4 linked regions of the Homo sapiens genome follow. Changing the gene in region 1 together with any one later gene gives a genetic interaction. Each region holds a gene or a part of one and is shown on either strand. Other genes may lie near its edges.

Evidence for each region.
Region 2: of TAF1 (region 1) and RB1, changing one suppresses a phenotype caused by changing the other (phenotypic suppression), as found in Homo sapiens cells (one study listed by BioGRID).
Region 3: changes in TAF1 (region 1) and EIF3H together harm fitness more than expected from each alone (negative genetic interaction), as found in Homo sapiens cells (one large-scale study listed by BioGRID).
Region 4: changes in TAF1 (region 1) and PPP2R1A together harm fitness more than expected from each alone (negative genetic interaction), as found in Homo sapiens cells (one large-scale study listed by BioGRID).

What each region holds. Positions count from the first base shown.
Region 1 is NC_000023.11:71,386,857-71,390,356, reverse strand, and holds part of TAF1 (transcription initiation factor TFIID subunit 1), read right to left. Parts: intron 3,097-3,500; coding exon 2,896-3,096; intron 2,121-2,895; coding exon 1,979-2,120; intron 1,620-1,978; coding exon 1,489-1,619; intron 773-1,488; coding exon 692-772; intron 1-691. UniProt on the Homo sapiens protein: The TFIID basal transcription factor complex plays a major role in the initiation of RNA polymerase II (Pol II)-dependent transcription.
Region 2 is NC_000013.11:48,362,751-48,366,250, reverse strand, and holds part of RB1 (retinoblastoma-associated protein), read right to left. Parts: intron 3,437-3,500; coding exon 3,294-3,436; intron 3,064-3,293; exon of another isoform or gene 1,358-3,063; coding exon 1,280-1,357; exon of another isoform or gene 1,275-1,279; intron 1-1,274. UniProt on the Homo sapiens protein: Tumor suppressor that is a key regulator of the G1/S transition of the cell cycle. The hypophosphorylated form binds transcription regulators of the E2F family, preventing transcription of E2F-responsive genes.
Region 3 is NC_000008.11:116,749,324-116,752,823, forward strand, and holds part of EIF3H (eukaryotic translation initiation factor 3 subunit H), read right to left. Parts: intron 1-3,500.
Region 4 is NC_000019.10:52,196,552-52,200,051, reverse strand, and holds part of PPP2R1A (serine/threonine-protein phosphatase 2A 65 kDa regulatory subunit A alpha isoform), read right to left. Parts: intron 1-3,500. UniProt on the Homo sapiens protein: The PR65 subunit of protein phosphatase 2A serves as a scaffolding molecule to coordinate the assembly of the catalytic subunit and a variable regulatory B subunit.

The sequences.
Region 1 (3,500 bases):
AAAAATTCTGAAAGGGAAGAGAAATTTAGGAAACTGAATGAACTTCGGTATGGTTGGAGCTTAGAATATAAGACAGGCAGTGACAGGAGATGAAAGGAGGTCAGATTAATATGCAAGGCCCAAATCATGTGAAGTCTTATAAATCAGGTCAAAGTCTTTTTTCTAGAAGAAATGAAAATCCTGCCAGGTGCAGTGACTCATGCCTGTAATCCCAGCCCTTTGGGAGGCCAAGGCACGAGGATCACTTGAGGTCAGGAGCTCAAGACCAGTCTGGCCAACATGGTGAAACACCATCTCTACTAAAAATACAAAAAATTAGCTGGGCATGGTGGCGTGCAACTGTAATTTCAGCTACTCGGGAGGCTGAGGCAGGAGAATCGCGAGAATTGCAGGAACCCCGGTAGGTGAAGGTTGCAGTGAGTCGAGGTCATGCCACCACTGCACTCCAGCCTGGGTGACAGAGCAAGATTCTGTCAAAAAACAAAACAAACAAAAAAAAACAAACCCATATCATATAAAATATAATATTTGATATATCGCATCATTTTTTCTGGCATGAATAAAGCAAGAACATCTAACAGTATACTTTAAATGTGTACAGTTTATTTTATGTTATCTCAATAAAGCTGTCTCTTTTAAAAGGATAAATGAGATGTATTAATGACTAATACAAACTAGTATAAAGCCTTACTTCATCATCAATCTTCATCTGGAAATCTTCCTCATTTTCTTCTTCTGGAGCAAAAAAGGATTTCTCACCATAGCCAGCATCCTGGAAGAGGACAGATCCATGCATAAATCAGTCAGTTAAAAAACACAAAGCACAAGTTTTTTTTTTACTGAATACAAGTACAGAATACCAAAGTCTATTTTGCATAGATGGATTCCATAAAGTCTTCACTATATCTAACACCACGGCACATCCTTAAGCTATAAGATACATTACAACATGCCAAGGAGCTTACTAGCTGATATACAGATAGTTACAGCCCATAAGCAAGCTGAACAGAGATGCTCAATAACTGAGTCTCATTAACTCAGTGGGACAGAGCTGTGCTGTCACACCTCAGCTGGACCTTTTCTCTTTTGGCCTTATAAGAATTCTGTGCTTCTCTAAACCACACATTCAGCACCATCATCATCTCTGCCTACCTGAGAGGCTGACAAGTACTTTCCCTGCTTATATGCTTATCTTGCAAAGAAGAGATTAAAGTCACCCAGTCACCATTTTCAAAGCAAAACAATATGCCCAAAGTTCCTCATTATGCCTTCCCACTGATACTTAGCTACACTATAGTTTTTCTCCAGAACTGATGTACGTAGAAGTACTTTATACAAATTGAACTTTTTAGTAATTGGTAATAATCTAGTAAACCATCCTCCCTAAGCCAGTCAGAGAAAGAATCTTCTCTCTCATCTCTCTGGGGGGAAGAAAAAAAAAAACAAAAAACCACAGGCATAAGTGGTGTCTAAGAGGAAGGTGTTCACCTTCAGTCGTTGCTCTGCAGCTATCATGCTATAATAAGCACAGCACTGCTCTGGTGACACCATAGCTCTGATCTCTTCTTCCGTTGGTAAACGAAAATCAGACTTAAGCACCCACCAGTTTGAGTCCATCCCTGGAAAAGACATATACATAGAGAATGAGACCATTCTGAATTCCAAAGGCCCTGATATTTATTGACAGCAACAGGGACAGCAAACCAAAACTGTAACAGGCCTAGCCACAGTTGGCATGACTGGCCAAGAAAACCCCAGCTGCTAAGTTTCCTACAACTCATAGAAGATATCCAACAATCACATTAAACTTCCTGGCAGCCAAATTCAAAAAAGCAACCAGAGTGTTAGAAGATCTGCTACCTCCTTTCAACAGCCATCAATTTCTATTTTATTAACTATATGCTTATCCTTTAACTCAAAGCCATCAAAATTCTTTTCTTGGAAAAAGGCAGACAAATAACTAGTCACAACAGACGACCTGTGCGTTTGAAGTCAGCGCAGAGCTTTAGCCTCTTCCGGATGCTGCTTTCTGAATGGGAAGGAAAGGCTTTTTTTATATCTTCCATTCGTATCCTCCGTGGCCGATCTTTACTTTTCCAGAAAAGGCGGTAAATAAAAACCTGCCCAACAAACCAAGTGTATTTTATTTGGCAAAGAAAAGGATAAAAGTCCTCACTAGGGCCTCTTCCTTTGCTAAGCTCTAATGTATTTTCATCTTTCCCGATGTGCTCCCAAACCCACACAGCCTACTTTTTCTGAGACGGAGTCTCGCTCTGTCACCCAGAGTAGAGTGCAGTGCCTTGATCTCAGCTCACTGCAACCTCTGCCTCCCGGGCTCCAGTGATTTTCCTGCCTCAGCCTCCAGAGTAGCTGGGACCATAGGCGTGCGCCACCATGCCTGGCTAAATTTTTTTTTTTTTTTTGAGACTGAGTTTCACTCTTGTTGCCCAGGCTGGAGTGCAGTGGTGCGATCTCGGCTCACTGCAACCTCCGCCTCCTAGGTTCAAGCGATTCTCCTGCCTCAGCCTCCTGAGTAGCTGGGATTACAGGCATGTGCCACCACGCCTGGCTAATTTTGTATTTTTAGTAGAGACGGGGTTTCTCCATGTTGGTCAGGCTGGTCTCAAACTCCCAACCTCAGGTGATCCGCCCACCTCGGCCTTCCAAAGTGCTGGGATCACAGGCGTGAGCCACCACGCCCAGCTAATTTTTGTATTTTTAGTAGAGACAGGGTTTCACCATGATGGTCAGGCTGGTCTCGAACTCCTGACCTCAAGTGATCCATTCACCGCGGCCTCCCAAAGTGCTGGGATTACAGCCATGAGCCGCCATGCCCGGCCCCAACATACCCTTTCTGTATACAACCCAATCCCCTCCCTATCCTCCCATTCTTACCTGTAGAAAGTCTCGAATATGCGTATTGGCCCTTTTGGAGTTAGGCCCAGGAACTTCAAACAAGGGACACTGCTGGCCAACCACAAAAATATCCACTAATTCCCGAATATAGTAACCCTGTCTTGTCCGAATGATCAAGAAATCAGTTTCTGGCATCTTATGAAGATAAATTGGAGCACGAAAAAGGTTGTTCTCAAATGCCTAACAAAAGTAAAAACACAAAAATTATATACAGAGTAGCCCTAGGAAATTCAGTCAACTGCTGAGAAAGAAATACCAAGCTTATTGCTCTCCATCTTAATTACGCCATCTAAGGTCTATCCAGTAATACAAATAAATTAAAATATAGATTATCAAATGTGACTAAACAATTTTTCATCCACTATCTTTCAGAGTCAGTAGGGGAGAAAATACAGGATGTGAATTCAGATGATGCTAGCTCTGCCATTACCTCTATGATTTAACATGTCTATTTAAGCTATTTAACATGTCTAAGTTTAGTTTTCCTCATCTACAAAACAGAGATACTTAAAAATGCCTATACCTCACAGGACTGCTATGAAGATTACATATGAAAATCACTTCATAATGTACCAAGTACTATA
Region 2 (3,500 bases), on another chromosome or scaffold:
TTAAAGGAGAAAAAAAGATTGCTACAACAGATTTTAAAGTTATGAACAGCCTAGTTTTTGGTACCAAAAGTGGTAACAAGACTCATTAATATAACATTTGGTCCCTTCTTGCCTCTTCAGTACCATATTTTAATTGTTCTGCCCTGTATCCCAACCTTAATGAATTACTTAGAGTTCACTGATCAGACCATACTATCATACATCACTGCACCTTTGAATCTACAATGTCCAACCCTTGGAAATGCTATATCTGTAATGCTTACTCAGATTTGAAATCACATCACCTCTAAACTATTTTCCACAAAACCTATCAGCCCTAGTTTGGATTAGGTAGCTCTCCTTTGAGATATCACAGAACCCTGTGAATACTTTTTTCACACTCTTGTAGACTCCTGTAATGCTCTATTTCTTTGTCAGCCTCTCCCACTAGCACTTTAAGGATAGTGACTGAGAGTGAAATCTCTGTATCCATAGTATCTAGCACGTGCCTGACATATATTAAGCATTCAAAAAATATTTGTTGAATTAATAAATTAATTCAAAAACTAGCTATCAATTCAGGTTACAGAACTAGCAGTCTAGCTATTTTATTTCATGCCTTTTGGTCATAGTGACTAATACTATGTCTTCTAAAACACTGGTTTTGTTCTTCATCATCTATCACAGCATCCTTTTCTCCACATATTTCGTCTTACCATGCAAAGCTCTCAGTTATTCTGTTCTCATTGGAAAGACATTTGTAGCAAAATGCGAAACAAAACAGGTAGATGGATGGAATATCACTAAGGTAAAACACTTCTGCAATAGTCACAGTCATTTCAACAAATACATTTGTATTTTCAATTAAGCAGTTCTTAAAAATCCTCAAAAGAGATGTTCCACAATGTAGTAATGCCAATAATGTTGATGGCATTAATCATGGTTCCTACGCTTAATGAGGCTTACCAAAGCAAATTTAATGGTTTATATTTAGCTATTAAAATTTAGCTATTTAATGGTATTTAGAAGTTTAAAAGTCTATACTTTGATTTTGGAAAAAATTCAATAAAGATTGATTTCTAGTATAAATCACAAAATGATGCTAATACATTTGATTATATACTCAAAAGCTTTTTGTTACTATACAAAAGTTAGTTTCACCACAATTCTACTTGGCTAGATTCTTCTTGGGCAAAAAAAAAATGTGATACACAGTAAATTGATCTAAGAAAGTTAGACAATTATCCTCCCTCCACAGTCTCAAAACATTAATATTTTATTAAATTTCCTTTCAGATTACCTCTGGAAGTCCATTAGATGTTACAAGTCCAAGAGAATTCATAAAAGGTATAAAATTTTTGAAATAAACATTTTTCACCTGAAAAAGATGAAGTTACAACATGATCATTAAAATTTAAAACAAAATCTAATCTCTTGACTCTTGAACAATGCAGGGTAAGTTAGAGGTGTCAATCCCCCATGCAGTAAAAAATCTGTGTATAACTTTTTTATTTTTTATTATTTTCTTAGAGAAGGGGTCTCTCTATATTGCCTAGGCTGAAGTGTAGTGGCTATTCACAGGTGCAATCACATGCATTACAGCTTCAAATGCTTGGGCTCAAGCCATCCTTCCACCTCAGCCTCCCAAGTAGCTGAGACTACAGACCTATCGATTACTTTTGAGTACCCAAAATTTAACTAACAGCCTACTGTTGACTGGAAGCCAACCAATAACATAAAGATTGAATTCACATATATTTTGTATATGTACTATATATACATACTAAATATATCATCTTCTTATGATAAAGATAGAGAAAAGAAAATATTAGGAAAATTGTAAGAAGACAAAATACATTTACAGTAAGTTTATGTCATCTGTTAACAAAAATCGTCCGCCTGAAACAGCAGGCATCTGCAGCTACAGTTTTGTATGTATTTTATGGTATAGTAAATGATAAAATAGACTAGTATCTACATATATTTTGTACATTCAAGACATGCCTTTTTCTTAATTTTTTCTGTATTTGTAGGCTACACGGTTTGCTACAAATTTTTTCAAATTATTGCAAATCTCCAAAATTTTTTCTAATATATGTAATTAAATATATCTGTGTATAAACGGACCCATGCAATTCAAACCTGTTGTTCAAGAGTCAACTGTATATTTGTTGAAATTAGTAAGCCATAGTGCAAAAACTATGATATATCTTGATAAATCATTCTAATACTTCTTAAACTAGATTTTAGGACCACACTCTCACTCCTTCCCAAAGTTAACAGAGAAATTTCAAAGATGTAACATTTTTTACTGCTATCTGGTGTTAGTGATTGTGGACAATAAAACAAACTATGAGAAAAACTGTATGGTAAAAAGGAAAGAAGCAATAGTACCAGATATCCCAAAGTCTAATGTAGACGCTGTAAATAATAAGCTATCAGTCCCTGGAAGCTTGTTTACTCATTATAAAAAGGAGATTGAATACATTATTTGTAAGATTCCTTCTAACATCCACATTCTATGAACAAGACAAGTAATTCCTGGGAATTCATATGTATTCTCCAGCAGTCATTATGTGCTGTAATATTTAGAAAGAGAGTAATTATAGAAGGCCAAACAGAAATTTAATGTTGGTATCACTTATCACTAAACTAAAACACTAGAGCACTAGAGTTTTCTAAGCAGGGCTTTTTTGGTTTGTTTGTTCGTTTTTGGAGACATAGTCTCACTCTGGCGCCCGGGCTGGAGTGCAGTGGTGCAATCATGTCTCACTGTAACCTCAAACTTCTGGGCTCAAGCAATCCTTTTGCCTCAGTCTTCCAAGTAGCTGGGACTACAGGCACATGCCACCATGCCCAGTTCATTTTTTTAAATATGTATTTTGTAGAGACAGAGTCTCGCTATGTTGTTCAGGCTGGTCTAGACCTCCTGGCCTCAAGAAATCCTCCCACTTCGGCCTCCCAAAGAGCTGGGATTACAGGTGTGAGCCACCATGCCCAGCCTTGGCAGGGTATTTTAAAACATTAGGGGTATCAGTAACCTCAGAGGAATAAAAAAAAAAAAAAACTACATTTGAAAACTATTGTCTTGATTATATACTTTTCAGTGATTCCAGAGTGAGGGAGCTACTCTCTTTAAAATCAAAGTAACTAAATATAACGAATTAATTTTTTCTAAATATTTTGCTACTGCAAAAGAGTTAGCACTAATTACAAAAAAAACATGCTCATAACAAAAGAAGTAAATATTGTTAGGGAGAACTTACATCTAAATCTACTTTAACTGTTTTAAAGAAATCATGAAGTTAAATTACCTCATCTATATTACATTCATGTTCTTTACAGAGAACTTCAATAATTCTTGTATCATTTTCTAGTTGTTTTGCTATCCGTGCACTCCTGTTCTGACCTCGCCTGGGTGTTCGAGGTGAACCATTAATGGGTATAACAGCTGTTTCTGTAAAAGTGGTAAATTAGATAAGAACAATTGTACATCCATCATATAAAATAATGAAGTATTC
Region 3 (3,500 bases), on another chromosome or scaffold:
AGAGCAAGCTTCTTCTCAAACAGTAAAATGCTATAAATCACCTGATTGTGTAGGTCAGGAGAGGGGCCTGAGATTCTGTGATACGTATGTCTGCATTTCTAACAAACTCAAGTGTAGCCAACATTGCTCATCTTACTGGACATGGATCATACTTTGAATAGCAAGGTCTAATGAACATAAGAAAGGTAAAATTCAAATGTTCTAGGGAACAAAGTGGGTTCAACATGAAAAGTTTAACGGGAAGAATTAGCTTGATCTTGTCTAGGAACAATGAGACCACCTGACAGAATGAAGACCCATTCTTTCTTTATTTTTGTTTTTTTTCTTTTAACTCATCTGTATTTGTTACAACTTTAAGCAGAATGTGACTCAGGCACTACATTTCCATCCACAAGACTAGCTCTGAGTTATTTTTGAACAGCTTTACGACATGCTTAGGTAGGCTTATAACTTTGCTCCTCCAAATGATACTTTTCTTTGGAAAACAAGCCCTGTGGAGGGCTTACTTTTCTTTGGAAAACAAGCCCTGTGGAGGGACTGCTACATTACAGATACAGAGGAAGTGATGAAACAGGTCTAAAGGTAGGAAAGGAAGGGTTCAAAAATACAAGAAAAATTGGTCTTGGCCACTATCAATGTGCCAGGAAGGAACAAATGTGTTAAAACATCAGGCTAAACATAGGATGAGATTAATCTCTGGGTTCATCTACATCTATATATGACTGAGAATGGTCATGAGAGTCGGGACTGGGTTCTACCTTGCTCACCTATATAATATCTTATATAGGTTACTGCAATATACCCCAGCATGTAGCAGGGCTAGACCTGGCATGTGGTCGGCAATCAATAAATATTTGTTAAATGAATGAAGAACAGAATACATCTGGAGTATACAGATTCAAGTTAAACTATATGGAGAATTTTTAAAAAAACAGAGTAAGTCGATTAAGTCACATTTTTTATTCAATATGTGATGATGAAAGAGAACAATTTCAAAGAGAAAGAACTTCATGAACAAAAGCAAGGTCATGCTTACTGCTTTGAATAAGGATGTGACTCTAGGTCTGTCTTTAGCATGACTTTTTTTTTTTTTTTTTTTTTTCTGAGACGGAGTCTCGCTCTGTCGCCCAATCTGGAGTGCAGTGGTGCAATCTCGGCTCACTGCAAGCTCCGCCTCCCCGGTTCATGCCATTCCCCTGCCTCAGCCTCCTGAGTAGCTGGGACTACAGGCACCCGCCACCACGCCCGACTAATTTTTTGTATTTTTAGTAGAGACAGGGTTTCACCATGTTAGCCAGGACGGTCTTGATCTCCTGACCTCGTGTGATCTGCCTGCCTTGGCCTCCCAAAGTGCTGGGATTACAGGCGTGAGCCACCACACCTGGCCTTTAGCATGACTTATTAAAGAAAAAACTAAGTAGTCTGAGGGGCTGGAATGTACAGTTCCTACAAAGCTTGGAAAGAAAGGAAATAAACCTGAACATAAATGCAAGAAACAAGGACAACATTTTGGTCCTTCAATTCAATGGAAAGTCACTGAAAACATCTAAGGAAAGAAGTTAAAATCTGAATGTTCACGTTAAATAAACGTTTTAATAAAAGTATGAGGCCGGGCACGGTGGCTCACGCCTGTAATCCCAGCACTTTGGGAGGCCGAGGCGGGCGGATCACGAGGTCAGGAGATCGAGACCATCCCGGCTAAAACGGTGAAACCCCGTCTCTACTAAAAATACAAAAAATTAGCCGGGCGTAGTGGCAGGCGCCTGTAGTCCCAGCTACTTGGGAGGCTGAGGCAGGAGAATGGCGTGAACCCGGGAGGCGGAGCTTGCAGTGAGCCGAGATTGCGCCACTGCACTCCAGCCTGGGCGACAGAGCGAGACTCCGTCTCAAAAAAAAAATAAAATAAAATAAAATAAAATAAAATAAAAGTATGAATGGTAGACTGAAGAAGGCAGGGGAAAACAATATTAAAATAACCTGCATAAGATATTAGAACATAAATTAGTATAAATAATAAAATGGAATACATACTCATTCATTTATCCTACTTTGTGAATTAACAGGTTCAGCACTGGAGATAAAACAGGTGAAAAAGCATAGTCCCTGCCCTCAGTAGCATACATTCTGATGAGGAAAACAAAGAAGAAAACAAACAAGATAGTTACAGGCTGTGGAAAATTCTAGAAATATAGGGTGCTGTGATGGAAAGTAAGGAGAAGAACAAGTCTATAATTCTATTTTGTACATGTTAAATATGAGATGCCTATGAGATATCCAAATAGTGACGTCAAACAGGCAATGGGTATTCAAAAGAGGCATTCAAGAGCCATTACTGGCAGAAATATAAATCTAGGACTTATTAGAATATAAATATTTAAAGCCGTGAGCACAGATAAGAATACCTTAAAGAATACTACTATAATTACTGCAAATAAAGCAGCAGCAAAGCTTAAATGGTGACTTATTCTGTCCCAGACATTGTTCTAGTTATTGACATATATTCAATCCATTTAAAGTCTCAAAACAATTCAGATGAGGAAAATGAGGCACAAAGACTTGCCCAATGTCATGCAGCAAATTTCAGAGCTGGGATTCAAATCCAAGCAGTCTGGCTCCAGAGCATGTACTTTTATCAACTTCGTTACACTACCTATGTCAAGCAGAGACTAAAAGAAAAGCCAAAACCTAAACCATGAGGCACTCCAATATGCACAGATGGAGAAGAAACATAAAAGGAAAGGAGTAAGTGGCCTAAAAGGAAGGATAGTGATTGACTGGGGTCACACACCAATAAGAACCCTCAGGATTCAGGTATGAAAGCAAAAGAAAGAAACCATAAACCATGAAAATTGATAGGGATAGTGGCAATCATTTTGTGGATGAGAAAATGTACCTTTGGAGTAAAACAATCATAGAAGTGTTGTTAGTTACTGGTGGATGCAGACTGGAATGCATGTCTCCTGATTACCAGGAGCACTGAAGTGCTCTTTCTACAATTCCAATCTACATTAGCAAAGTTAGCATTCGAAATGATTTGAGAAACATTAATAAGGATGAGAGTGGTAAAGACACAGTAATCTGAGTGTTTACGATGACACAGGTACTATACTAAACACTTTAAATACCTCGGAATTTCATTCTCACAACCCTTATGAGTTACTACTTTATCATCATCCCCATTTTACAAAGGATACACCTGAGGCCTAGAAAATTTAATAACTTCCCCAAGGTCATGCTTACTGCTGGAATAAGGATCTGAATCCAAGTCTGTCGTCAAGATTCTCTTGGCTAGTATGTAATATTGCTTTCCTAAGAGTAACACTGTTCATCAAGACAGAAATGAAGAAAGAAAGAAAGAAAGAAAGAAAGAAAGAAAGAAAGAAAGAAAGAAAGAAAGAAAGAAAGAAAGAAGAGAAAGAAAGAAAGAAAGAGGGAGGGAGGGAGGGAGGGAGGGAGGGAGGGAGGGAGGGAGGGAAGGAAGGAAGGAAGGAAGGAAGGAA
Region 4 (3,500 bases), on another chromosome or scaffold:
GTTGGGTTCTCCGGTCCAGGAGTTGAAGAATATCTCTGCGATCACAGACGATGAGCATCTGATGAAGTGTTGTGATGGTCTCTCCTCAGAAAAATGCACACAGTAAATCTTTCATACAGGTAGTCCAAAAACTCACCATTCTGGCATTAAACGGACCTCAGGATAAAGTACTACAAAACCTGCAACTGATTTTCAGCTAAAAAATAAAACGTATATAGAGACAGACCTATAGAAAGATAAAAAACTAATATAGCAAACACTAACAATCACTGACCTGGGGTGTAAGTATAGAGGTGCTCACTGCACTATGCTAGAAGTCAGCAAAACTTATTCTATACATTGCCAGACAGTAATTATTTTCAGCTTTGCAAACCTAACTACTGAACTCTGCTTGCGTGGCACTGAAAACAACCATAGAACCAGAACTAGAGAAGCAAACAGGCATAGCTGTGTTCCAATAACTTTACTTGCAAAAGCAGACAGTGGGCTGAATTGGACCCATGGACTGTAGTCTGCTGACCCTTGTGTTAGTCTTCCAAAGTTATGCATGTCTGAAAACTTTCATAATAAAATACTGTGGGGAGGCCAGGCGCAGTGGCTCATGCCTGTAATCCCAGCACCTTGGGAGGCCGAGGCAGGCGGATCATGAGGTTAGGAGATCGAGACCATCCTGGCTAACACGGTGAAACCCCGTCTCTACCATAAATACAAAAAGAAATTAGCCGGGCGTGGTGGCGGGCGCCTATAGTCCCAGCTACTCGGGAGGCTGAGGCAGGAGAATGGCGTGAACCTGGGAGGTGGAGCTTGCAGTGAGCCGAGATGGTGCCACTGCACTCCAGCCTGGGTGACAGAGTGAGACTCTGTCTCAAATAAATAAATAAATAAAATAAAATAACATAAAATACTGTGGGGAGTATTGACCTAGTTGCCTATTTCTTTCCTCTTTGTTTTCTCCAAGTTGATCTGTGTGTTCTTCTCTCAGCCTGAGCTATGGGGAAATATACACATGGGCTAGGGCCATACTAGGTGAGCAACAGCCCTGAGGACAATGAGATGGTACAGGGAATAATTACAATTAATAATCATAATCATAAATGCCAGAACAATAGCAACAAACATTTATTGTTTGCTACGTGCTTGGCAGCAATCCAAGTGATTGACATGGATGATTAACACACTGAATCCTCATAACTGCTCTGAGGTATGTATTGTTAGCAGCGTCCCCACTTCACTGATGCACAGAGGCGAGTGAGGACACTGATGCACAGAGGTGAGGCTGTCACTTACTGGAAAGCAATGAAGCCAGGCAGCCTGACTCAATTTCAATATCATACTGTCATTTAGGCAAAAATGTTTGTATCATGAAGCTTCCATAAAAACCAAAGAGGAAAGGATTCAGAGAGCTTCCTGATAGCAGAACATGCACATTCTTGGAGGGTGGCATCCCCAGGGATGGCACGAAAGCTCCCCGCCCCTTCCTCCATAGCTCACCCTATGCACCTCTTCATCTGTATCCTTTGGAATATCCTTTATAATAAACCGGTAAACCTAAGTGTTTCCTGGAGTTCTGTGAGCCGCTCCAGCAAATTAATCAAACCCAAAGAGGGGGTCGTGGGAACCCCAACTTGAAGCTGGGGATGCCCAAGAGGTGGGCCCATGACAATCAGGCTGCTTTCCCATCCAGAGAGCTCCCTTCCTTCCACTGCTGTTCTTTGGGATTCTGCTTTTGGTTTCATTAAAAGTGTTTCTTCAGGCAGACAGCATCATCAATGCTTGAGAAAGATGGCCTAGGGTGGTACTACAGAGCTGCACTGTCCAGGTTCAAGGCTAAACTGCTTACATATTAGCTGTGGAATCTTGGGCAATCCTTGTACCTTTCTGAGCCTCAATTTTCTCATCTGTGAAGTGGGGATGATGAGAATACCTACCCTCAGAGGGTTGTCTTGAGTACAAAATGACATTCTACAGGGACACCCTAGCACCAGGGGAAGATTAATAATGGCAGCCGTGGCAACCACGCCTCACTGACAGCATCCTGATTTTGTTCAGATTATTAAGAAGGACATCGTGGCAGCTGGTCCACTGATGTTTCTTTTCCCTTTTTTCACCATGACAGAATAATAACAGTAAATATTTCCTTAGTCTCTACTATGCCCCAGGCTTTAATGTTTTAATTCATTTGACCCTCACAATCCCATGAGGGAAATACAGAATCCCCCGTCTTGAGGCAGAGAACACAAAGGCACAGGGAGCTTAACTGCATACAGCTTACTGGTAGTAAAGCCAGGATTTGAATCCCAGCCACCAGGTTCTTAACCAGTACTATGGATTCATATTTGCTCTGTTTTTTCTTTTTTGTTGTGCTTGTTGTTGTTTTGAGGCAGGGTCTCACTCTGTTACCCAGGCTGGAGTGCAGTGGCACAATCGTAGCTCACTGTAGCCTTGACCTCCCGGGCTCAAGTGATTCTCCCGCCTCAGCTACCCAAGTAGACGGGTCTACAGGCAGGTGTCACCAAGCCCAGCTAGTTTTTTAACTTTTTGTAGGGATGAGGCCTCACTATGTTGCCCAAGCTGCCCTCAAACTCCTGAGCTCAAGCAATCCTCCCACCTCGACCTCCCAAAATGCTAGGATTATAGGCATGAGCCACTGCACCCGGCTTTTTTTGGTTTTTCTCTTGTAGAGGGGTGGGGTGGTGCCATGAATCCCCTTAGCAGGTCTAATAATGAACGCAATTTTGAAAGAGGTGAACATAAACAACACTAGAAGATATGTATAATAGCAGAAATGACATGTGAACACAACTCCTGATTTCCACTGGTAAGTCACAGGTTTTGCTAACGCTACCTATGATATACTATAGTGATATTATAATCTATAACAGAAGGGAAGTTAAATGTAAGTTAAAGGTTAATGAAAATAAAGATGTTATTTTTGCCATCCAAATTCATGGACCTGCCTGGGAATTGCAGATGATCCCCAAGTTAGGAGCTCCTGCATGGGGCTATACTGCTGTTCATAATCCTTGGTTTTCAGCTGTACACATGACCCCTGGAAAAGACATTTCTGAATTGCCTTTGCATCTGAATGTGACTATAAAACTAACATCTGGCCAATAAAATCCAAGTGGAAATGTTTTGTGCAACTTATAGGGATGGGGGTCACACTTATCTTCCCTCCTTCCTGTCTGGAATGGAGCTATAATGGTTGGGGCTTCGGCAGCCAACTTGGGGACCTGAGGTAACCTGGGGGACACGGAGGGTAGAATGGAGGATACAACCAGCGCATAATGGTAAGAGCCTGGGACCCTGACACCATGAAGTGCCACAGCAGCCTGGATTGCCACCAGACATTTTGGTCATCAGTCAGATAGAAACTTCAAGCTCATTTAAGCCCCTGTTATTTAGAGTTTTTCTACTACTTACAGCCAAACTTAACTTCAACTAACTCTGCATATGACCTAGTTCTTGGCAAAGAGATATACAAGCAAGTCTGCTGAGGA